Homo sapiens: one gene and its partner. The protein of the gene in region 2 binds, or shares a complex with, the protein of the main gene of each other region. Each region holds a gene or a part of one and is shown on either strand. Other genes may lie near its edges. The genes, in order: APOO and CHCHD3.

Region 1 (12,503 bases), on a different chromosome or scaffold from region 2:
CCAGGGTGTTGGGATTTCAGCTATCGTTAGGGAGATAGGAATGTAGAAGTGAGTGAGAGGAGCTTCCCCCTCCCTCTCCTGGTTAGAGCATGTGGGAAAATCTTCCAGGTCCAAAGAAAGCACTTTTTCTGTGCTGTGGGTACGTTCCTACAGTGCCGAGAGCTTGTCCCTGGAACATCCACTAGGATGACCATCCTAAGGAGGATTGGAGATGGTGCTCTCCTGGCCAGAGCAGCAGCATGAGGACATCTGCTACAGTGGGTCCTAGTCCTCTGATTTTGTTTGTTCGTTCTGTCTCTTTTCTTCCTTTTCCTGGGGAGAGCTTGGTAGTATTAAAATAATTTGACACCTTAATTCTTTTTCACAAATATTCACACAGGCACGCACACACACATGTGCAATAGCAGGTCTTTTCTCCTGAGCGTTGGGTATAGAAAGACCTGAGGTGAGCAGCATCAGAGGGGTTCACCAAGCAAGATGAGTGGGGTGATAGGGATGTCTGTGGGTAGCCAGAATGGTTTGCAGGCCCCTCCAGGTGAATGGGCCCCTTTGAGGGCAGCAGCAGGGTGGGTGGGTGCAGAAGGTCCCTCCTGATAGGAGTTTCTTTTTTTTTTTTTTGAGACAGTCTTGCTCTGTTGCCGAGACTGGAGTGCAGTGGCGCCATCTCAGCCTCACTGCAACCCTGCCTCCTGGGTTCGGGTGATTCTCCTGCCTCAGCCTCCCGAGTAGCTGGGACTACAGGCGTGCACCACCATGCCCAGCTCATTTTTGTATTTTTAGTAGACACGAGGTTTCACCATGTTGACCAGGCTTGTCTCGAACTCCTGACCTCAAGTGATCCTCCCACCTCAGCCTCCCAAAGTGCTGGGATCATAGTTGTGAGCCACTGTGCCTGGCCTGGTGGGGTTTCTTGAGCGTATCTGCTAAGGTAGTCTGCTTCAGTTGTTGAGGATTGCCACAACTGTGGTGGTGACAAGAGGCTCTCAGAGAGGTGAATGGATGTCCATTCAGAGGAAGTGGGCCCAGCCAGACCACTCCAAGATGACACGTGGTTGTTGACACTATTGTTGCCTTCTGGTGGCTCTCCCCAGCATTGGCCACCAGTGGTTCCCCCCGCCCCTGGCAGTGCTGATAGTGACAACCTGTACCACTGGCCTCTTGGGAGATAGGGCATGGAGGTGGGGGCAGGGGAGTATGATTACACCTCCTTCCTGAAGTTCTTGGGTCTCTGGCTCATTGTGTGAACCAGCAGGAGCTGGAGGCCCGAGAGCTGCCACTTCTCGGCTCTCCCTGGAGGAGTGAGAAATGACTGGGTGGCAGGTTGGCTGCTCTTTCCCTGGTCCTCACTTGGGTGAGCTGCTTCAAGTGGATGGGGGCAGGGGAGGGGCCATATGCAGGGATATCACAGGCTTTTCTCTTCTAGGATAATTATACCCTTTCAATTCATGCAACAGGATCAGGAGAGAAACAGTAAATCATTAATAGTCTAGGTTGATAACATTTGTATTCTCTTCAGCAGTCCCAGTTCCATCGTTGGGGATTTCTCTGTTTAAAGTTTTAAAGCCAATAAACAGTACTTATGTGATTAGAACCGTTTAAGGATTAATGTACACATTCTGTCGGGGTACAGTGGCTCACACCTGTAATCCCAGCACTTCAGAAGTTCAAGGCGGATGTATCACCTGAGGTCAGGAGTTCAAGACTAGCCTAGCCAACATGGTGAAACCCGTCTCTACTAAAAATACAAACATTAGCCAGGCGTGGTGGCGGGTGCCTGTAATCCCAGCTACTTGGGAGGCGAAAGCAGGAGAATCACTTGAACCCGGGAGGCAGAGGTTGCAGCAAGCCGAGATCGCACCACTGCACTCCAGCCTGAGCAACAGAGCGAGACCCCATCTCAAAACAAACAAACAAACAAACAAATCAGCCGGGTATGGTGGCTAACACCTGTAATCCCAGCACTTTGGGAGGCTGAGGTGGGTGGATCACCTGAGGTCAGGAGTTCGAGACCAGACTGACCAACATAGTGAAACCCTGTCTCTACTAAAAATACAAAATTATTTGGGCATGGTGGCGCATACCTGTAATCCCAGATTCTTGGGAGGCTGAGGCAGGAGAATCACTTGAACCCAAGAGGTGGAGATTGCAGTGAGCCGAGATTGCACCATTGCACTCCAGCCTGGGCAGCAAGAGCAAAACTCCATCTCAAAAAAAAAAAAAAAAATCAATAACACACACATTCTGCTAGCATCTATATGGGTCCCACAGCAAAAAACACTATGCCTCTCAGTGGAGTCAAGGCCATGTGTATTCTCTAGTTTCATCCTCTACTGGTTTTTTTAACCTCATTCTCAGGTTTCTCCAGGCTCTGTGTCCTGCTGTCTCTTCTGTCCATTTCCCTTGCTCCACAGCTCTATATCCTCCTACAATCTGGCCTGAGACTTCAACACAGTTCTTGTTTTGGGACTGGTCTTCTTCACACTTTCTTGGGTTTAAGCCCCCTTTTCCTGGGTTCCATGTCATCTTCTCCTTGGTTTACTCTGCCGTGCTGTTGAACTACATGCTTAAGTCACTTTCAAAAAAGCGTATGTTGGAGGTAAACTTCCCAAGACCTTCCATGTCTGAAAATCACTTTCTGCCCTCATACCATGTGACAGTTTGGTTGGGCACTGAATTTTGTTTGCCATCAAAACTTTCAAAGCCATGTATTCTAGCATCTGGCGTTGTAGATGTGAGAGTCAGTAGCCATTCTGGATATTTGCTGCTTCTGAACAGGTGATACATTTTTTTTTTCTTCCTGGAAGCTTTGAAGATCTTCTGTGAATCTTTAGTGTTCTGAATTTCTTTGGTGCTGTGACTAGATAGAAGTCTTTTCTTTTTTTTTGAGACGGAGTCTCACTCTGTCACCCAGGCTGGAGTGCAGTGTCACAATCTCCGCTCACTGCAACCTCCTCCACCTCTGGGTTCAAGTGATTCTCACGCCTCAACCTCCCAGTTAGCTGGGATTACAGGCGTGCACCACCACGCCTGGCTAATTTTTGTGGTTTTAGTAGAGATGGGGTTTCACCATGTTGGCCAGGCTGGTCTTGAACTCCTGACCTCCAGTGATCCACCCGCCTCAGCCTCCCAAAGTGCTGGGATTACAGGCATGAGCCACCATGCCCAGCCTTGGATATAGTGTTTTCATTCTTGCCCAAACAATATGGCGGCTTGCAGCATCCAGCTGAAGGAAAATATCTTCTTTTCCTCCCTCCCTCCCTCCTTCTCCCTTCCCTGCCCTCCCCTCCCTCTCTCCCCTTCCCTCCTTCTCCCTCCCCTTCCCTCCTCCCTCCCCTTCCATCCCCTGCATCCCTCCCTCCCCTCCCTCCTTCTCCCTTCCCTTCCCTCCTTCTTCCTTCCCTTCTCGTCCCGTCCCTTTCTCTTCTCTTCTCTTCTCTTTTCTTTCTGAGAGATGATCTCACTCTGTCACCCAGGTTGTAGTGCAGTGGCATGATCAGGGCTCACTGCAGTCTTGACCTCCTCAGGCTCAAGCAATCCTCCCATCTCAGCCTCCTGAGTAGCTGCGACTATAGGCATGCACCACCACACCTGACTAATTTTTTTTTTTGTGGAGACCGGGTGTCACCATGTTGCCCAGGCTGGTCTCAAACTCCCGAGCTCAAGCAGTCTTCCTTCTTCAGCCTCCCAAAGCGCTAGGATTATAGGCATGAGCCACTGCGCCCAGCCTATCTTGTGTATCTTTGAAAATTTACTCTCATTCTTTTTCCTTCCTCAACGCATTAATTAGCAATTGAGTTATTTAAAAGGACCCTATGTGTCTCTTATATTTTCTTGATTATTTTATTTTGTTCCTTTTGAATTTTTTTTGCTTTGGTCATTTCCAAGAGCTCCTTCCTGTTCTTTGAATGTTCTTTTTTTCATAGAATTATTTTTTTCTTTTAATGTAGTGGCTTTTAAAATTTATTTGATGATACTTAGTAATAGGTTTAGTTTTGTTTTGAAGTTCTTCTGTTTCCTTTGTGCTTGTCTTGGTCTTTCTCCTTTATGTTTCAGGCTTTCCACAAATGACTGGTGATTCTTGGTTATCCAGTCATGTTTCAAAGTGAGGCAGCTGAAATGCTAATAAGAACTCTTTCACCTGTAATCCCAGCACTTTGGGAGGCTGAGGCAGGCGGATCACCTGAGGTCAGGAGTTCAAGACCAGCCTGGCCAACATGGGAAAACCCCATCTCTACTAAAAATACAAAAAATAGCCGGGTGTGGTGGAGGGTGTCTGTAATCCTAGCTACTCAGGAGGCTGAGGCTAGAGAATCACTTGAACCCAGGAGGCAGAGGTTGCAGTGAGCTGAGATCACGCCACTGCACTCCAACCTGAGCAACAGAGCAAGACTCCGTCTCGGGAAAAAAAAAAAAAAAAAAAAAAGAACTCCCTGTCTGTACATGGGGCCCACTGACGGGCAGGTTCTACCTCAGGGGAGCTGGGCAGGAAGTGACCATATACAAGGGTGCACCCAGGGCCAGTGTGAGGAGGGCTTTTCTCTCAGGCACTGACATACTCACCCCTTCCAGCTCTCTTGGTTCTCAGCAGGAAATCCATGGTGTTTCTTTAGTGATACCCTGCCCCCACTGTTTTAACTCTTTTTTTTTTTTTTTTTTTTTTGAGACAGGATCTTGCTTTATCACCCAATGTGTTAGGCCATTCTTGCATTGCTATAACCTAACACTGGGTAATTTATAAAGAAAAGAGGTTTAGTTGGCTCACAGTTCTGCAGGCTGTACAGGAAGCATGGCACCAGCATCTCCTCGGCTTCTGGTGAGGCCTTGGGCTGCTTGCAATCATGGTGGAAGGCAAAGGGGGAGCTGGTGTCTCACATGGCAAGAGTGCGAGCAAGAGAAAGAGGTGGGGGAGGTGTCACACATTTTTAAACAACCAGATCTCAAGAGAACTCACTGTTGCACAAGGACAGCACCAAGGGAATGGTGTTAAACCATCTGTGAGAAATCCACCTTCATGATCAGGTCACGTCCCACCAGGCCCCACCTCCAACATTGGGGATTACAATTTAACATGAGATTCAGAGAGAACAACATCCAAATTATCACCCAGGCTGGAGTGCAGTGGCATAGACACAGCTCACAGTAGCCTTGAACTCCTGGGCTCAAGCAATCCTCCAGCCTCAGCCTCCTGAGTAGCTAGGACCACAGGCACATGCCACCACACCTTACTAATTTTTTAATTTTTTGTAGAGATGTGGTCTCCCTAAGTTGCCCAGGCTGGTCTCAAACTCCTGGGCTCAATCAGTCCTCCCACCTCAGCCTCCCAAAGTGCTGGGATTACAGGTGTGAGCCACTGCATCAGGCTCATTTTTTTTTTTTTTTTAAAGGAATAGAGATGGGGGGCTGGGCGTACTGGCTCATGCCTGTGATCCCAGCACTTTGGGAGGCTGAGGCAGGTGGATTGCTTGAGCTCAGGAGTTCAAGACCAACCTGGGCAACATGAGGAAACCCCGTGTCTACAAAAACTACAGAAAAAAAAAAAATTAGCCAGGCATGATGGCTTGCACCTCTTGTCCCACCTACTTGAGGGGCTGAGGCAGGAAGATAGTTTGAACCTGGGAGGTCGAGGCTGCAGTGAGCCATGATTGTGCCACTGCACTCCAGCCTGGGAGACCGAGTGAGGCCCTCTCTCAACAGAAAAAAAAGAAATGGAGATGGAGTCTCGCTATGTTACTCCAGCTGGTCTCAATTCCTGGCCTCAAGCAATCCTTATGCCTCGACCTCCCCAAGTGCTAGGATTACAGGTGTGAGCCACCACACCCAGTAACCCTGGTTTACTGGGTTTTTTAACATTTTGAACTGGTGTGACTTCCTGGCCAGGGGTAGTTTTGTACTGGGATGGCATAGGGGAAGGAAAGGCCATGCTGGTCCATGCATCGGACTTGCGTTTGTCCTGTGCCCTTGTCTTGCTCCCTGGTTGCCATCTCCACTCCCCATGGTACCTGCCATCTCTGGATCTGGAATCTCCCTGGGGCTGCCTGGGACAGATCTGCTCCCTCTGAGGCTGCACTCCTCCTCAAGATTTCAAGATTTCAAGGCAGTGTGTCCTCTTATTTCCGTTCACTCTCCATTTTCTGAAAATTGATTGACACTTCCTTTCTGCCAGTGGCCCTTCCACACATTTTCTCTTCATTGTGGGTTTATTAATGTTTTTTCTTACTGTTTTTTTAACGGGGTTGCAGAAAGGGGAGAAGAAGAACGCTTGTGTTTAGTATTTATATAGGAAGCCAGATTGCTATAAAAGAACATAAACCCTAGAAACCAAAATACTCATTTGTTTATTTTTAAAATAATCTTTTTTTCTGCTCTCTTAGGGAAAAAAAGGTGTTCTTTTGAAAACACTTGGTGCTGAGTGAAAGAAGCCAGTCACAAAGGACCGTATATTTACTGCATGATTCCATTTATATGAAATACCCAGAGGGCCGGGCGCAGCGGCTTACACCTGTAATCCCAGCACTTTGGGAGGCCGTGGCGGGTGGATCACCTGAGGTCAGGAGTTCGAGACCAGCCTGGCCAGCATGGCGAAACCCCATGCCTACTAAAAATACAAAATTAGCCGGGCATGGTGGCGTGTGCCTGTAACCCCAGCTACTCGAGAGGCTGAGGCAAGAGAATTGCCTGAACCCGAGAGGCAGAGGTTGCAGTGAGCCAAGATTGCGCCATTGCACTCCAGCCTGGGTGACAAGAGCAAAACTCTGTCTCAAAAAAAAAAAAAAGAAATATCCAGAGTAGGCAAACACATAGAGATAGAAAGTAGATCAATGGTTGCCTAGGGCTGGACGGTACGGGGGAGTTGAGGAATGACTGCTAATGGGTTTCTTTTAGTGATTATGAAAAAGCTCTAAAGTTAATTGTAATGATGGTTACACACCTCTGTCAATATACTAAAAGCCATTGAACTGTACTTTAAATGGGTGAATATGAATTTTATCTCAATAAAGCAGTGCAAAAGCGTTTTGGTGCACATGACTTTATTTGGCACATTCTTTCAGTTTAGGACCAAAGAAATCTTATTCAGTGGTGGGGTTATTTTGGTTTTGTTGTTTGGGTTTCTTAAGAGACACGGTCTTGCTCTGTCACCCAGGCTGGAGTTTAGAGGTGTGATCATAGCTCATTGTAACCTCGAACTCCTGGGATCAAGGAATCCTCCCACCTCAGCCTCCCAAGTAGCTAGGACTATAGGCACACACTACCACGCCTGGCTAATTTTTTTATTTTAATCTTTGTAGAGACAGGATCTGACTATGTTGCCCAGGCTGGTGTCAAACTCCTGGCCTCAAGTGATCCTCCCGCCTCGGCCTCCCAGAGCTTTTGGATTATAGGCGTGAGCCACTGTGCCTGGCCTTGTTCCGTATTAAATGGATAAGGTAAATTGTGATGGTGAGGATAATGAATCATCTGATGGCGTGTACAACCTTTTATTTATCAGGTTCAAAAATAAAGAAGCTAGTGTATCCGCCTGGTTTCATGGGATTAGCTGCCTCCCTCTATTATCCACAACAAGCCATCGTGTTTGCCCAGGTAAGAGAAACTCTGTAATCCATGATGTCCCTCATTCTTGTTTGTGTGTGTATGAATCTGATGCTTAATTTTATTTTATTTTGCAGTTCTTATAACACCAGACTAAAATTTGTTTGTACATATAGATGAATACAGAAAATTTAAATGATTTTCTCCACTATATGCCTCAGTTCTGGCCCTTCTTCCAGTAATGCCAGTGTTCACAGAATTTGAACACGAATTTGCGTGATTGTTTGAATGTTCATCAGCAAAAATTTAATATACATTTTTTGTATACTTACATGGAAGTCTAGAGACTCAAATTCCAAAGCTGATAATTATGGGTCACTCAGTTTATGCATGTCCGGTCACAACCTGCTCTCGTTGGTATTGTAGACCCAGACTACTCTGACTTCCACTCCTCCCTAGTACTGGTGCCCTTGCTTTCCTTGCTGGGGACTTTGGGGACTGTAATCCCCTCTGCTTGGAGTGCCCTTTTCGGGGCTTTCAGTTGGCTGCTCCTTTCTTATCCTTGAAGCCTCAGTCTTATGGTACCCTGGCAAGCAGGTCTATCACGGTGGCAGGCAACATGGATAAAGCTGTACCACCGATTCTTAAAATGTGTTACCAGACCAGAAGCAGCAGCATCACCTGAGAACTTGTTAGAAATGCAAACTCTCAGGCCCCACCCCAGACTGACTGAATCAGAAGCTCTGGGAGTAAGGGCCAGCAGTCTGTGTTTTAGCAAGCCCTCCGGTGGTTTGTTATTAATGCCTATGGTGTTTGAGAACCACTGATGGAGACCAGTAGGTAGCCTGAAAAGGGTGATATCTGGAGTGAGTGGGACTCTAGAGATGGTGTCCCTCAGGAACTGGTAAGAACAAGACAGGCTCTAGGTTTTGAGGTCCTGGGCAGATTGTGGACACAGGGACTTTAGCTGCTGGAACTACCACATCACATGGAAACTCAGTTCCAGGAGCAGACAGCAGTGCAGTCACCCAAATTGGACTCTGAGCCAGACTGACCTGAGACTGAGCTTCCTTGGTTGTTCATGACAGTATTGAATCCAGATTCCTTGATTGGGCTACAGTTGTATGTGAGAGTCCAGTGGCCCCAGCTTGGGGAGCTTGATGGCTTTGATGACAAATACCAGTACTTTCCAGCATTTGCTCAACATTGTTTGTAACAGTCCTGGAGGCAGATAGTTAATGCTTCTGTCCCTGCTCCAGCCCCAGGTCAGGAACAGTGAGTAACATCTTCCAGCCCTAGATATAAAAATAATTAAACATTATTTCAGCCTGTTATGGTTTAAGCAGTAAATAGCTAGAGTGGAGAGGGTGAACTTGGTTGCTCGTTGAGAAGCATATGTGGCTGTCCCCAGAGTAGGAGTCTTTTTTTTTTTTTTTTAAATTTCTTTCTTTTTTAACTTTTAGCGTTAGGTGTACATGTGCAGGTTTGTTATTGTAAATCGTGTGTCATGAGGGTTTGGTGTACAGATTATTTTGTTACCCGGGTAATAAGCCTAGTACCTGATGGGTAGTTTTTTGATCCTCGCCCTCTTCTCACCCTCCACCCTCAAGTAGGCCTCGGTCTCTGTTCCCTTCTTTGTGTCCATGTGTTGTCAAGGTTTAGTTCCCAATTACAAGTAAGAACATGTGGTATTTGGTTTTCTGTTCCTATGTTAGTTCACTTAAGATAATGGCCCCCAGCTCCATCCCTGTCCCTGCAAAGGACATGAGCTCATTCTTTTTGGCTGCATAGTATTCTGTGGTGTATAAGTACCACATTTTCTTTATCAAGTCTACCATTGGCTGGGCATGTTGGCCCACGCCTGTAATCCCAGCACTTTGGAAGGCCGAGGTAGGTGGATCACCTGAGGCCAGGAGTTCGAGACCAGCCTGACCAATGTGGTGAAACCCTGTCTCTACTAAATACAAAAAATTAGCTGGGTGTGGTGGCACATGCCTGTAATCCCAACTACTTGGGAGGCTGAGGCAAGAAAATTGCTTGAACCCAGGAGGCAGAGGTTGCAGTGAGCCAAGATTGCGCCATTCCACTCCAGCCTGGGCAACAAGAGCGAAAACTCCATCTCAAAAAAAAAAAAAAAATCTACCATTGATGGGCATTTAGGTTGATTCCATGTTTTGCTATTATGCATAGTGCTATGATGAACATATGCATGCATATATCTTTATAGTAAAATGATTTATATTCCATTATTATTCCCAATAATAGGGATTGCTGGGTCAGATGGTAAGATCTTTTCTATTTTGTTTTAAGGTCAGTGGGGAGAGATTATATGACTGGGGTTTACGAGGATATATAGTCATAGAAGATTTGTGGAAGGAGAACTTTCAAAAGGTGAGGAGCATCTTTTTCATTATCTTCCTTTTGGTTTAAATATGTGGTTTCTCTAGGGTTTTGTAAAATATTTGATAACCCTGTTGATTTATTGCTTTTTCTGTTTGCTTCTAGTTCTGTCTCCAGCTCAGATTTTTCAGGTGACCTTTCTTGGTAGAGCAGTAGAACTTCTGAGTATTTGGTTATTATCAGCAGGGCCAAATAAGTGGTGACCATAAAATGCAATGCATTCCACCGTAGTCTTAGACCATATTTTCCATTATATTGTATTCCTAGTTTCCTCTAAGTGTAGCGTATTATTTAAAAGTCTTATTGAAACTGAATTCAAAGGGAATGTACTATGCTCCCAGGAAAAAGACATAATTGAGAGCCTCTTCCTCTTGGTTTTTCACTTATCATGAGTTCTGTTCTTTCCTTAGCACTGCTGTTTCTGTTTATCCCCCAGGCTTCTCAGCTCAGCTGAGGGTGTGAGCCATCGTATGTTGGGGACTAGCTACCAGCTAAAGGCCACGTTCTCTGTGCTGTCTAGTACATGAGCAACAGAGGGAAGAAGTTGTGTAATTGTAAGAACTTGTCACCTTTCATCTCTTTTAGTGGCCACATAGCCGATTAAATGTTGCCTATGTTCGCTTGGAACATTCCCTTCCTCCCACTGATAAGGAAGAATGAGTAGAGAATAAGGTATCATGTCTCTACTAAGCACTCAGAGGCACAGCCAGCTAAGGAAGAATTAGACTTCTTATATTAATATACCTTCTACATCACAGATTGAAGGAAGTTCATTTTTCAATGAAAATACTTTTTAAAAAAAAATAAATAACTGAGCTTCAAATCATTGACAAGTTAAAAAAATACATATAAATAACTATCTCAGAATTAAAATCCAGAATTTTGAACTGGGATTTGGAAGTAACAGAATAAATTATAAGCCCTCTTTATTATTTACATAAATAATCTTCTAGTGAAATCTTAAGACTCATTTTTTGGCCAGGTGCAGTGACTCACGCCCAGCACATTGGGAGTCCAAGGTGGGAGGATCACTTGAGCTCAGGAGTTTGAGACCAGCCTAGGCAACATAGTGAGACCCTATCTCTCCAAAAAATAAAAAATTTAGCTGGGCATGGTGGCATACTTTGGGAGGCTGAGGTGGGAGGATTGCTTGAGCCCAGAAGGTAAGGGCTAAATAGAGTGAGCCATGATTGCGCCACTGCACTCCAGCTTGAGCAACACAGTGAGGCCCTGTCTCAAAAAAAAAAAAAAAGAAAAAAAGAAAAAAAACCCCACTAATTTTTATACTGGTGGTTTCTAAAGGAATTAGTCCTTCTCGAGCCTATTTAAACTAGCTCTTGAATAGGAAATTCTATACCAATATCAAGAGTCTTTTGGCAATCCCTGTTTTTTTGATTGTTTTTTGTTTTATTTCTCTGATATTTTCTATGGAAGCTTCCTTTCCTTTTTAAAAAATTCCTTAACAAATGCGGCCAGGTGCGGTGGCTCATGCCTGTAATCCCAGCACTTTGGGAGGCCGAGGCGGGTGGAGCACCTGAGGTCGGGAGTTCCAGACCAGCCTGGCCAACATGATGAAACCCTGTCTCTACTAAAAAAATACAAAAATTAGCTGGGCATGGTGATGCACGTCTGTAATCCCGGCTACTCAGGAGGCTGAGGCAGGAGAATTGCTTGAACCCAGGAGGCAGAGGTTGCAGTCAGCCAAGATTGCGCCACTGTACTCTAGCCTGGGCAACAGAGCGAGACTTCATCTCAAAAAAACAAAAACAAACAAGCAAAAAAACAAATGCACACTAAATTTTATATGGGAAAGGAAGTAAAATATCAAGAAATCTCTAAACAGCCCTAGACAGAAATGTGGAAAGTGAGACTAAAAGCCTCAACTGCGAGCCTTCATTGTGGTGTGACTGCAGACTGAAGCACACCAAAGCCAGAGGGAGTCCCCCAGGCTCCCCGGAGTGCTCACTGTGGTGTCTGTGCAGACACACACGCACACCAAAGCTAAAGTGAGGGCTGCGGGAGCCTCTGGCTTGGAAACAGCATTCTCTGACTGTGCTAAGAATTCAGCCCAGTGCAGAAGCAGCTGGACTGTGGTTAGGATACCAGTTAAGCAGGCCAACATTTTCTGGTCATTTGAAGACATTAGATATTAAAGCTACCCAAATTTATATGCAGATCTTTTTAGAGTGAGGTGGTAAAGATTTTTAATTAGCTCATGATTGGTTTGCATTTCTCTCTGTCTTTATACCCTTGCCTTCTTCAGAGTCATTGAGAACTTAAGGCTTTCTCCTGTTTGTTACTCTCCAAGGATAATTTTATTGACAGCTGTCTGTTCTCAATAGAAGGTAATAAAATCAGGGCCAGGCACAGTGGCTCATGCCTGAAATCCCAGCACTTTGGGAGGCTGAGGCAGGCAAATCGCTTTGAGCCTAGGTGTTCGAGACCAGCTTGGGCAATATGGCAAAACCCTGTCTCTACAAAAACTACCAAAAAAAAAATAATAACCAGGTGTGGTGGCATGCACCTGTAGTCCCATCTACTTGGGAGGCTGAGGCAGGAGAATCTCATGAGCCCAG
Region 2 (12,503 bases):
TAAACCAGCATAATGTAGTAAGACATAAAAAAGAGTGAGTCAAAATTTTAACTGGAATTTTAAAAAGAAAATATAACTGCAAAGTCAAAAAAACTAACTCACTACTCTTCAATTTCAAAAAAGAATCTAATGACAGCAAATATTAGATCACGTATATAAGATCTTTACAATACACATATCAAGTTGCATTAACTTTACAAATTCCCTGGTCCTGTCCTTCTAGTCAGTCTTCATCTTCTACAGAGGTGCTTTCCTGATCCTAAGAAGCATATTTTGAACGTGAGTTGCTTTTAACATTTTCATGCAGGTAAAATCATTATCAGTAGACTGCCTCTTCCAAAGCCTCTGGATAAAGTCAACTGATTAAAATGCTGGCATCACTCAGTGCTGAGTAGAGGAAGGGGCTGGTATACTCTTCCAGAATCTAGAGTGGGATTAACAGCTTCCCCAGCTAAAGCAATTCTTCCAAAGGGGAAAGTTTTGATCTGATCCTATTTTAAAACTTCAACAACAGGGCCATCATGACTTTGCCCTTCAAAGAGCTTCAATAAAGCTAGCTGCTAAAACAACTGTGGGAAGAAAAAGCCTGGACTCACATCTAAGGAGACAGAAACCTAAATGTCAGCTGTTAGTGAGCCAGAAAGATGTGGGGGGTGTGGGGTAAGGGGTGGGAATCGTTTTATTTCACAGTCCCAACATCACATCAGCTCCCGTGCTTTCACCCTCGCTCTCCTGAAAGACAACTTTTTAATTACTTCACATGTGTGAAACACAATCTTTACTTTCCTGCAGACTGCAACATTTGAGTTCTAAATAAAGAGGAACGAAGCAATGCTTGGCCATTACTCAAAGAGTCCCACATATTAGAATTAAGAATGGCAGCAATAGGGGCCCTCCAAAATAGCAGGAGCAATGCTAACCTTTCTGGGGTGACTCCCACATCAATTATGGGTTCTGAAGATGCCCACCTCTCCAGCTGGGGATCAAGGAACTAACAAACAACAGCAGGCTTGCGATCACTGTCCACACCGCACAGTACTGGTTTGGAGGGTGGTGGGATACATAATCTGAGACCCTAAAGCATGTATAAAATATATACATATGGGGAAGGGAGAAAGAACTTTATACCTCTAAACATTAATGATAGATGACAGAATTATAACAATACTGATTTTCTTTGTAATTTTTTGTTTTCCAAGTGTTCTATAATATTCTTGTATTAATTTAGTAATTAGTGGAAAACTCAGTGAAACACAACCATTAAAATGTGACCACACAAAAACGTATTTATCAGTATAAAAACTTTTACCACATGGCCTAAATGTTTTAATGTGAAGGTTATTGTAACAGTTATACAAAAGAGTGTATACTATTATCTATGTTTGGAGAAATACCGTTATACACATAAAATCAAATGTTTTATACCAACTCAGTGGGAAGTAAAAAGGAATATAAACACAACAAACCAAAATGTTAACAGTAACTATCTCTGAATTGTAGTACATTGAGTGATTTTAGTATCCCTTTGTATTTATTTTCTAATCTTGATCCAATGAATATGTATGTCTTCCATAATAATAAATAACAACAATAAAGGGAGAAATCTGGTAAATAAATTGGGAACTGCCCAATAACTAAATGTCACTGGCAGCCATGTTGCTGTGGCCATGGCAGACCATGCAAATGTCTGACAACACTCTGGGAAGGAAGGGACTCTCTCAATCAGCTGTCATCCTATGGCATAAATTCCACTTTTATTCCCTAAGTGCTTTGAGGGCTCTATTTGGCAAATATTACAACAGATGCTGAAATACAGGAGTTGTGAGTACTACAATTTGTCATCTATACCACACAACCAGAATCTGTAAATAAGAGATCTACAAATCAGAATGTACGAGGCCAGTTTCTCATGCTTCACCAGCTACACAAAGCAGTAAAGACAGACAATAGACAAGATTTATTAGGTAAAACAGAACAGACTGCAGATATGCTATTCCAATCAAAACATGTTGCTTAATATTTTAGTTATGTTGAGTAACAAATCTTTTGATACTTTCACATTTTTTTGTGAAATCTCTTTTTATGTCTTGCTGAGTGTGTGTATATATTTAATGAGTTTTTTGAGTTTTTGAATCTTGCTGGTCTCCATAAACTAAGAGAGTAAGACAGTATGTCCAAATTCAGGCAAAAAGAGGTGGAGAAAGAGTGCTTCAAAGATAAGATTCAAAAGAGTAAAAGCTGGGAGGCAAAGAGAAATGCCAACCAAGGTATTCTTCTGCCCGCTGGAAACTAAGAGTTTTGCTCTCGTACCTTCCTCAAACATGAGCACTATTAACCTCCTCCACTACATCCTTAGCTTCCAAATTTGGAGACTTTAATATACATAGAAATGACTTTTCAACCCACTGACCTGATATTTTTTCAGCTTCCTCAAAAAATCCTTCAGCTTAGACGTACAACAAATTTAATTTTCAGTTGAGTTACTCAAAACTTACTGTCTTTAATTCTGAAATTATTCCCCTTTCACAATGACTGACTTTGCTTCCACCTCTCTTATTCCCTTTGTTCCACTCAACACATGTACTGTTCTTAGGGCAGCTGCCAGTCAGTCCACTGACATTTCTTTCTTGGTCTACCACCTCTATTCTGGCTTCACTATTTGCCCATGCAACCGGGACCCCAGATTTGTCACTGAAGAAACTGATTCATTACGCATGGACTTCCTTTCATGTTCTCTGTTTGCAGCTGGTCATGGGTTGGTCTTTCAGAGAAGTGACTAAGGTAAAGAATGGGAGAGACTAGAAATGAGCCTTCTTCTTAGAAAGTTTTAGTGTTTCCCAATTGCCTAGTGAACTAGGAAAATCCCCCTCACTCTTCAGTTCAAAGTTCTCCATTCCATGGTCCCATTTTCCCTGTCCAGTGAGTTCCCAACTGTGCTCCAATGAGGACTAAAGGTTCCGAGGAGTAACATCTGGGTTTCTAGGAAGGCCGAAGTGGAGGCTAAGCAGTCAACACTCCAGGTTTCACCCAGAGCAGCTCCACTTTTATCTATCAAATAACAATAAGAAATTGCTTAATAAATTATGTTGAATACAAAAGGCAGAACATTATTCAGCCATTAAAAACTACATTTCAGAAAAATGTTCAGTGACATAGGAAAATGTTCATGAGGCTTAACACCATCTATAGCATTATCTAAATGTTTCAATATGTTAAAAAGCCTAGAAAAAAATAATCTCGAGGAAAACACACACTGGTGTAAACCATGGTTATATCAGAAAGACAGATTGATGGGTGTCTTTTAAACCTTCTTCTGTCTGTTAGTAATACTTTTAAAGACAACAACAAAAACATGTCTATGTAATCTTTTAAAAGATTAAAAAATATTTTCTTTTTAAAAAAATTATCTTAGAAAAGACTGTTCCCCAAGGCCCTGGCTCTACATTTTCTCTTCCCTAAACCCCAGGCAGTGATTGATCAAACCTTACTCACCTTTGCCAGAGTCTTCCAGACTAACATCTGGTAGTTGCCAGCCACGAGAGAAAGAAGCCTACATTGCTGACCCCTGAGGTTTCAAAGACAATAAAACCAAAGGCAAAGGACAAAAAAAGAAGACAGGCCGGGCTCGGTGGCTCACACCTGTAATCCCAGCAGTTTGGGAAGCCGAGGCGGGTGGATCACATGGTCAGGAGTTCAAGACCAGCCTGGCCAAGATAGTGAAACCCCGTCTCTACTATAAATACAAAAATTAGCTGGGCACGATGGCAGGTGCCTATAATCTCAGCTACTCGGGAGGCTGAGGCTGGAGAATCACTTGAACCCCGGAGGCGGAGGTTGCAGTGAGCTGAGATCGCACCACTGCACTCTAGCCTAGGCGACAGAGCAAGACTCCGTCTCAAAAAAAAAAAGGAAAGAAAAAGAAAAAAAAGCAGACAACAATCCTTCAGGTGTGAAACATGTACACATGTCTGCATGTTGGTCTTCAATACTTCCAGAGTTACCTGCCTTTAAAGTCCTTGATGGTTAAACCTAAACTGTAAGCTACTTATAAAAGGCAAAAATCAAAATCTGAGCAAAGAGAACATGAATAATATTATCAACACTAAAAGCTGGCACAGAGTACTTAGCTCTTCCCAAACATCAGAGATTTCCTTGTAGGCAAGAAAATTTCTCCTACATTTTTAATACTCACCAGGTGCTTTGCCTTAGCGCGTTCCTCCTCGCTACATATCCTCTCCCGAAGGATGGCTCTGGTTAACTGCTCATTGGCAGCAGCCCTCTCTCGGTCCAGCTCTTTGGCTTGCTTTAGTCTAAAATGACAAGAATTGTCTAAGTTAGAAAAAATATTTTATTAGTTGACATTATTTTCTATCAAATGAAATAATTTAAAAATAGAAACACATAGCCAAAAAGGTCAACAGCTGAAATCATCTTGGCCCATAATCTATCAAAAAAGCAGGTATAGAGGTAAATCCCCATGCAGCCTCCACTCAAGCATTTCAAATAACCAAATTCAAATACATGAAGAAGCTTATTAATTTGGCTGCCAAATATAACTAAGTTTTACAAAGTTCTTCTTATGTAAAATTAAAATCTGCCCACCAAAAAAATTCCATCCCTGGTGCTTCCATTTGGCCTCTGAAAATTTAAGTAATTAACAAACCATCTAGGCCAGGCGTGGTGGCAGCTCACACCTGTAATCCCAGCACTTTGGGAGACCAAGGCAAGTGGACCACTTGAGGTCAGGAGTTCAAGACCAGCCTGGCCAACATGGTGAAACCCCGTCTCTACTAAAAATACAAAACTTCGCTGGGCGTGGTGATACATTCCTGTAATCCCAGCTACCTGGGAGGCTGAGGCAGGAGAACTGCTTGAGCCTGGGAGGTAGAGGACGCAGTGAGCTGAGATCATGCCACTGCATTCTAGCCTGGGCGAATGAGACTCCGTTTAAAAAAAAAAAAAAAAGCCATCTACATGACAAATATTTGAAGGTAACCATCGTCTCTTTCTCCAAACTTACTCAACTCGTCCATTTACTGAATGCACACCAGGCACTGTGCTAGGCATTGAGGACACAGCGATAAACAAGATGGACAGGTCACTGTCATTGTGGATGTTACAGCACAGCAGAGAAGCCAGACATTATGGAACTAATAAGGACATCTTTCCTCCCAGTATATTACCCCTATTTTCCAACAATCCTCATATGCAAATATGACCACGCCTTTCAACTGCAGGGCTCCTCACTTCTGGAATGACTCCAATCGATCTGTTAGCTCCAAACTAAACCTAACCCTCCAGACATGCTCTAGCAAACTAAGACAGGAGAATCTTACTTCCCTAGATCTGTACACAATACTAATTCTATTAATGAAGCATAAGATTGCATTAGATTTCTCAGTAGCCTCATCACACAATTAGATCATATTAAGTTACAACCCACTAAAACCCCTCATTGTACATGATAAAGATAAATTACTTTGGCACTGATTTTTGCCATAGTGCCTGGCACATAGAGGCATTCAGTAATCACTGAATCACTGAAGATTTCAGTCTAATCTCATGAACAAAGATTTTCTGACTGCCTTTTCTTCTTTGAGAGAATAACCCTACTATACCATCATATCCCTGAAGGTATAGCTATGCTTTAAAAAGGAAAAGTAAAATTGTTATGTTGGTGTAAGTGAAATTCTGAGTGAAATCTACTTTATACGTGTGAATGATGAGCACCAAATTCTACTCAGTACTAGCTTATCAAATTTTAGTTTTAAAAAGATTTTTGAAAAAAACTAGAGATAAAATTTTGTGTTACTATTTTTAAATTGCTACATCATCCTGATACTCTGGAATTCTCAGAAATCAACTACAACAGAAAAAAAAAAGTCACCTTGTGAGATATATTCCAAAGTTATCATCCTTTTCCCCTAAAAATCAAAGCTGTGTAGTTTTGTGTCTTAAATAAAAAAAAAGAGGACTAGAAACAAGTTAAAATCTGTATTTCGAAATTCTCTAATGCAAAAGTAACCTTTGGGAAACTTCCTAAGCAATAAGCACAATGACACTCATACAAACCAAATTTCTCTAAATTATTTCACAAGGACCATACAATAAATTCAGCAACATCAATGATATCAACACATTAACACCACTGGATATGTGTAATTGTAAGAGAACAGCAATAATTAGAAGTCACACCACTTCCTAGAACAGCAGTTCTAAAACTACAGTCCACAAACCAGCTGCAGTAGCATCAGCTGGGAGTCTGTTAGAAATGCAGCTTCTCTGATTCCATCCCACACTTGCTGAATCAGAAACTCTAGGGATAGTGCCTAGCAAACTGTCTTTTCATAAGCCCTCTAGAATTCTGATGCATGCTAAAGTTTAAGACTACAGCCCTTAATTACCAAAATACACTTGTACTCAAATAAATCCTGGAGGTAAATGAAAGTAACATCAAAAATGAAGTGCTCCCCATGAGAATATTGTGCAAATAACTGCTGAGGTTATCATATCAGATTACAATACTGTATTTAACGCATTTGTATGGACATCTTACCCCTAAGTAAAAAAGCATTACCTATTTTTACCAGTGAGGTGGAAACTAAAATAAAATAATAAAATTACTATCATTTATGGATCAACTACTAAGCACTGTGCTAGGCACTTTACAAACATATATAAAATGTTTATTCAAATTCTATTATTAGTTCATGAACATAAAATGAATTCTGTTCAACTGAATTATCACATCTACCACATTTGGTGTATCTAATTTTAAAGTACTGTTTAAAAATTACTACTTTTTTTTTCCATTTTAGTTTACTTATGTATGGCTTAGATTTTAATTACATATGGAGTTCTACATGGTTCAACTTTAAGAAATACAGGATCATAAGGATTTTGGCAAGTTAATGAAAAAGAAGCAAAACATGAGCACAAAAGCCTTCAATGTGATAATAAAAATAAACATATTTAGCTTGCCATGACTGGTACAGATATGCAAACTCTGGGTCCAAATCAAGGCTCTAAACTTCCTATCTGAATAAGTACTTTATTTAATCTCCGGTGAGTCCTGTTATTCTCATGGGTAAAATGAAATAGTGTAATACCTACCTTACAGCGTTCTATATAAACAAGGCACTCAGCACAATGCCCATAACATAATATACACTCAATAAATGTTAGGTAAGTAGCAGTAATAATAATAGTACCCACTATGCGGGTAGGAATACAGAGAAAGCAGTGATTTTACGAAATGAAGAAGACAATCTCCAAATTCACTAACTACAATGCCATCTCCATCATCTTTTCCAATTTTTCACCAATAAATTCTGCTTTATTTTTATGATCTCTAAGGACTTCTAAAATCACAAATTGACTCTACTAACTCCAGCAGCTAGACCCTTTCACAAGCTGCTTCCTTTCCCTCTTGTCCATAGCTCCATAAGGACAACGATTTGCCCTATTTTTGTTCACTGCTATATCCCCCATACTTATAAAAGTGCCTGCCACATATCAAACACGCAAGAAAAAGTTGTTGATGTATGCATGTGTGAATGAATGAATGAATAAATAAATAAATGGCATATTTCTAACCACAAACAAAACAAGGAAAACAAACTGCAAAAGAACACAAGGCGATGGTATATAAGAAACAACTAACGAGACAAACTGTATCCTCCAAGGGCTTAGCCACCATGTTAGATGTGGCACATCTGTGATATAATCCCAGGCTACATTAAATAGCCTACAACAGGAGGTGCCACAACAGTCCAGAGCCCCTCCAACATCAACACCTAACTATATTTGACACCTGGATTGAAAGAGGATTGGCAGTGGTGCAAACTGACTAAAAAGAATATTATTTTCCTTTCTTAATAAATTCTTATACTTTCATTCATCCTTACAAATAGAACTGCACAAATTCTCAAATGTTTTTAAAGGAATGTTTATAAATTTTAAAAAAACTTTTTTTAAGGTCTGTATGGTGACTGTTTAAGAAACCAAATTTTTTGTCATCAGGGAGTTTGGCAGTAGGACTCTGAACAAATTCTCATTTCCTATCAACAACTTAGCTGTACAATCTAATAAGCCTCAGTTTCCTCAGTTTTAAAATTTGAAGGTTGAACTACTATATAATCTTATGGTCCTTTGCATATAAACATTCTAAAAAGTCTATACCTTAAACATATTATTCCTCATTCCATAAAAAATCTTGAAAAAGGTGGTGGCAGGGGATAAATAAAACAGAGGGGCATTATATTATCTCCCAGCTTGATACTGTTATAATTTCTACTCGATGGGCACATATACTTCTACTGTAATCCTGAGATTTCTCACTACAGTACTCAACAAAAACTACACACTGGAATTCATAAATTTATTCAGTATATAATTACTAGGTGAAAGGGACTACTCTGGTTACTGAGAATGAAGTAGTGAGCAAGAGACACAGTCCCTACTTTCATGAGCCATGATTACAAATAACAGATGCATTATTTTTAAAAAGTTAGGTAGGTATCTATGACACTGCATGGGTGGGACTGATATTTAACTTGAGCTCTACAGGACATTAACTGAGCAACATGGGGAAGGAGAAAGTGTCTTAGGCAGAGGAAACATCAGTTGGGTCCAGAAGCACCAAGAAAGGATTTCCTTCAGTTAGATTCCTGTGACACTTAGAAGGGTCTCTGAGGCATGAAATCACCTCTGCAAAGAATTTTACTTGCTTTCAGATTCTCTTGGAGGACAGAGTTTCAATGGTATACTGACTGAGGTTCAGTTTTGACCAGTGCCCAAAGATGAGAAGCTTCTAAGTTGTACCATTTCCCATTTAAAAGCAATAGATTTGAAACTTCAAAATTGTACCATTCTCCATTTCCCCAACCCTCCCCTCCAAAATATTGCATGGCAATTATTTTCTTCTAAGTTTCCTCTTTCAATGGTTCCTGTAAATTCTTTACTGAGCCAAAACCACTTTGCAAAGAAAAACTGCTTATGTTTTCAGAAACCCCCAATTACTTTCAAAGCTTCCTCTCTGGCCCCTTGGTTTTATACCGCATGGAGCTATACTATTCAACAGCCATCTGCAAAAGGTAGATGAGCTGTCAACCAATTTTTCTCTTTTTGAACCAAATAAGACAGCCCTGCCATCTGGGCCTCTCTGAAAACTACTGCCCAGATAGTGGAGCTATAAAATCAGAAGCCATGTTGTTTTGGGAACACTTCACTAAGGAGAGAAGACCCAGGCTCTCACTGACCAAGGGAAGGCAGGACTTTATATGTAAAGGCAGGAGATAAAATAAGTCTCTCATTATTAACTTGGGTTTCCAAAGATTTAAGAATTATCTCAAAACAAAACTAAACATGCCAAGTATCTTAGAGAATACATTCCTTTTTTATTTATTGGCATTTCCCACTTAATATTTTAGATCTCCTGCTCTAATATATTCTACATTAAGTCCCTGATTTAAGTTTCATTTAAATTTCTTTCTTTTAAATACATATCTCTCCTCATTTAAATTCTCTAGAGTTTCAAGCAAAGAAGTAGGAGTTTAGTGTAAACTTTTCTTGTTTGCATTAAGTAATTGGATAGCTTGCCTAAGCTTAATGAAACAAATACCAGTCAGTGCTGCCCTTAGACCTCAAGCCCTAGCAACTTAGCTCTTTCCTCAGTATATTGTCAATCAGGCGAGGGACTTAAGGTACACCAGCAAAATGAATTCCTAAAAGCCAGCCAAATCTCCTATAATAAATATTATTACATGTCCTTTTAAATGGGAAAACAAATTAACTACTTATAAAACATTCAACTTTCATGGACAGCAGGTATAAAATCTAGTTCTCTATATTTTAGTCCCAGGGTAAAAACTAGCCAGTTTGACTTTACTCTAAAGAACCTCAAGTTTTTAAGAAAGTAGAAAGAGAATTTTAAAGATAACTTTAGCAAGGCATTAACATATTGAACTTCATTCACCTCCATAAGGGAGGCATTACTAGCTCTAGTTTTTTTGTTTTTTGTTTTTTTGAAACATGGTCTTGCTCTCTTGCCCAGGCTGGAGTGCAGTGGCATGATCTCGGCTCACTGCAACCTCTGCCTCCCAGGCTCAAGCAATCCTCTTGCCTTAGCCTCCCAAGCAGTTGGGACCACAGTTGCATGCCACCAAGCCTGGCTGATTTTTGGGTTGTTTTTTTTTTTGTGGAGACGAGGTTTCAGCATGTTGTCCACATGGTCTTGAACTGGGCTCAAGTGGTCTTGAACTGGGCTCAAGTGATCTGTCCACCTCAGCCTCCCAAAGTGCTGAGATTACAAGCACAAGTCACCACACCAGCTACTATCTCCATTTTTAACATGAGAAAAACTGAGAAGTACAACAGAGGTGTGAAAGATGGTGATCTGACTTCCAAAGTCATACTTCTTAAACATCTTAAAGAGTAAACTTTCCTATAGGAATTAGTTTCCATTATACTACTCACCTTTGTGGTCATGTAAGGACAGTTTTTAAATCTTACATTATTCACGGTTATTTTAAAATAGGCTCTTTTAAAATTTGTGTATACTACACTAAGTCAGAGTTTGCCAGAGTCTAAATTATTACCACCCCTTTCCCAAAGTGGTTTGGCTTTTAATGGCCCTAAATGTTTTTCTGAATTTGGATACTGCTCATTTGGCCATTCACAAATACTCAGATTTATCTTCATGTAGGTTGACACATAAGTAATTCTATACAATTCTAGCTTAGAAAATTACTTTATAAATGTAATACATAAGGCCATTACACTATGGAGAGAAAGTTGATAAGAACTTCAGATAATGGGTAAGAATAAATGGGAAACGGAGATTGCTAGAGATAAAGTGATTTGACTAAATGACTTATCTAAAGTTGAACCGTGACCGTTATACATAGGCAATATATACAAGATACTGCAATGCACTTGATGCAGAAAGGCTATTTCAAACACTGAAAGAGAAAAATGAGTGACGACAACCTCAAAGGTCATTTTAATGCTAACAATGAATTTTATTTTAACGCATCATATTTTGTCAGAACCTGCCGAACCAGCATTCAAGATACTGTTTACCATCCATTTTTAAACAGAAGAGCTAAGCTGGGTAATTCAATGAAGTAATTATTAGACTATTAAAAATAAGGACAAAACACGTATACAGTTTTTGATTAATAAGACTTGACAAAAATAAGGGAACAGAGAAGCTTAACACTTCTCAGCTCAAATCGTTTCAAATCCTGGAAGAAAATATATGTGGATTGAGATTCCAAAATAAATACATAAACATGAATATGGCATCTTAATTTTTCTTTTTTTTGAGACGGAGTCTCACTCTGTCTCCCAGGCTAGAGTGCAGTGGTGTGATCTTGGCTCACTGGAACCTCCACCTCCGGGATTCAAGCGATTCTCCTGCCTCAGTCTCCCAAGTAGCTGGGATTACAGGCATGTGCCACCATGCCTGGCTAATTTTTGTATTTTTAGTAAAGACAAGGTTTCACCATGTTGGCCAGGCTGGTCTTGAACTCCTGACCTCAGGTGATCCACCCACCTCAGCCTCCCAGAGTGCTAGGATTACAGGCGAAAGCCACCACACCCAGCCTAAATTCATATATAATATCTGCATGTGTGACAGAAAAAGAGTTAGCATTTATTATGCTTACTCGTACCAGGTACAACTGTAAGCATTTGATGGGTGTAACTCATTTAATCCTCACAACAACCCTATTAAATCAATTATATTTCGGATGAAAAGCTGAGGCACAGAGAAATTATGTAAAATTGAGGCCTACAGAACTTTTAAGTACAGCTGAACCTTCAATAACACACGTTTGGACTGTGTAGAACCACATATGTGCATTTTTTTTTCAATAAATATATTGAACATTTTTTTGAAGACTTGTAGCAATTTGATAAAACTCACAGATGAATCACATATCTATAAATATAAATAAATTTTTAAAGTATGTCATGAATGCATAAAATATGTTGATTCTGGTCAGTTTTATCATTCACTATCATAAAATATATACGAATCTATTATTAAAAAGTTAAAATTGGCCAGGCGCGGCAGCTCATGCCTGTAATCCCAGCACTTTGGGAGGCAAGACGGGTGGATTACCTGAGGTCAGGAGTTCGAGACCAGCCTAGCCAACATGGCGAAACCCCATCTCCATTAAAAATACAAAAAATTAGCCAGGCATGGTGGTAGCACCTGTAATCCCAGCTACTCGGGAGGCTGAGGCAAGGAGAATTGCTTAAACCCGGGAGGCAGAGGTTGCAGTGAGCTGAGATCACGCCATTGCACTCCAGCCTGGGTGACAGACCGAGACTCTATCTCAAACAAAAAGTTAAAATGTATCAAAATGTATGCACACAAACAGACTGTACATGGCACCATCTGCAGTGGACGGAAACGTAAACAGAGGTAAAGATGCAGTATTAAGTCATAACTGCATAAAATTAACTATAGTACATACTGTATTGCTATAATTCAG

What was found.
Region 1: CHCHD3 (region 2) and APOO share a complex: the UniProt entries of both Homo sapiens proteins name them as parts of the mitochondrial contact site and cristae organizing system (MICOS) complex.

What each region holds. Positions count from the first base shown.
Region 1 is NC_000023.11:23,853,717-23,866,219, reverse strand, and holds part of APOO (MICOS complex subunit MIC26 precursor), read left to right. Parts: intron 1-7,486; coding exon 7,487-7,578; intron 7,579-9,837; coding exon 9,838-9,918; intron 9,919-12,503. UniProt on the Homo sapiens protein: Component of the MICOS complex, a large protein complex of the mitochondrial inner membrane that plays crucial roles in the maintenance of crista junctions, inner membrane architecture, and formation of contact sites to the outer membrane.
Region 2 is NC_000007.14:132,970,977-132,983,479, forward strand, and holds part of CHCHD3 (MICOS complex subunit MIC19), read right to left. Parts: intron 4,311-12,503; coding exon 4,193-4,310; intron 3,049-4,192; coding exon of another isoform or gene 3,001-3,048; exon of another isoform or gene 2,452-3,000; intron 1-2,451. UniProt on the Homo sapiens protein: Component of the MICOS complex, a large protein complex of the mitochondrial inner membrane that plays crucial roles in the maintenance of crista junctions, inner membrane architecture, and formation of contact sites to the outer membrane.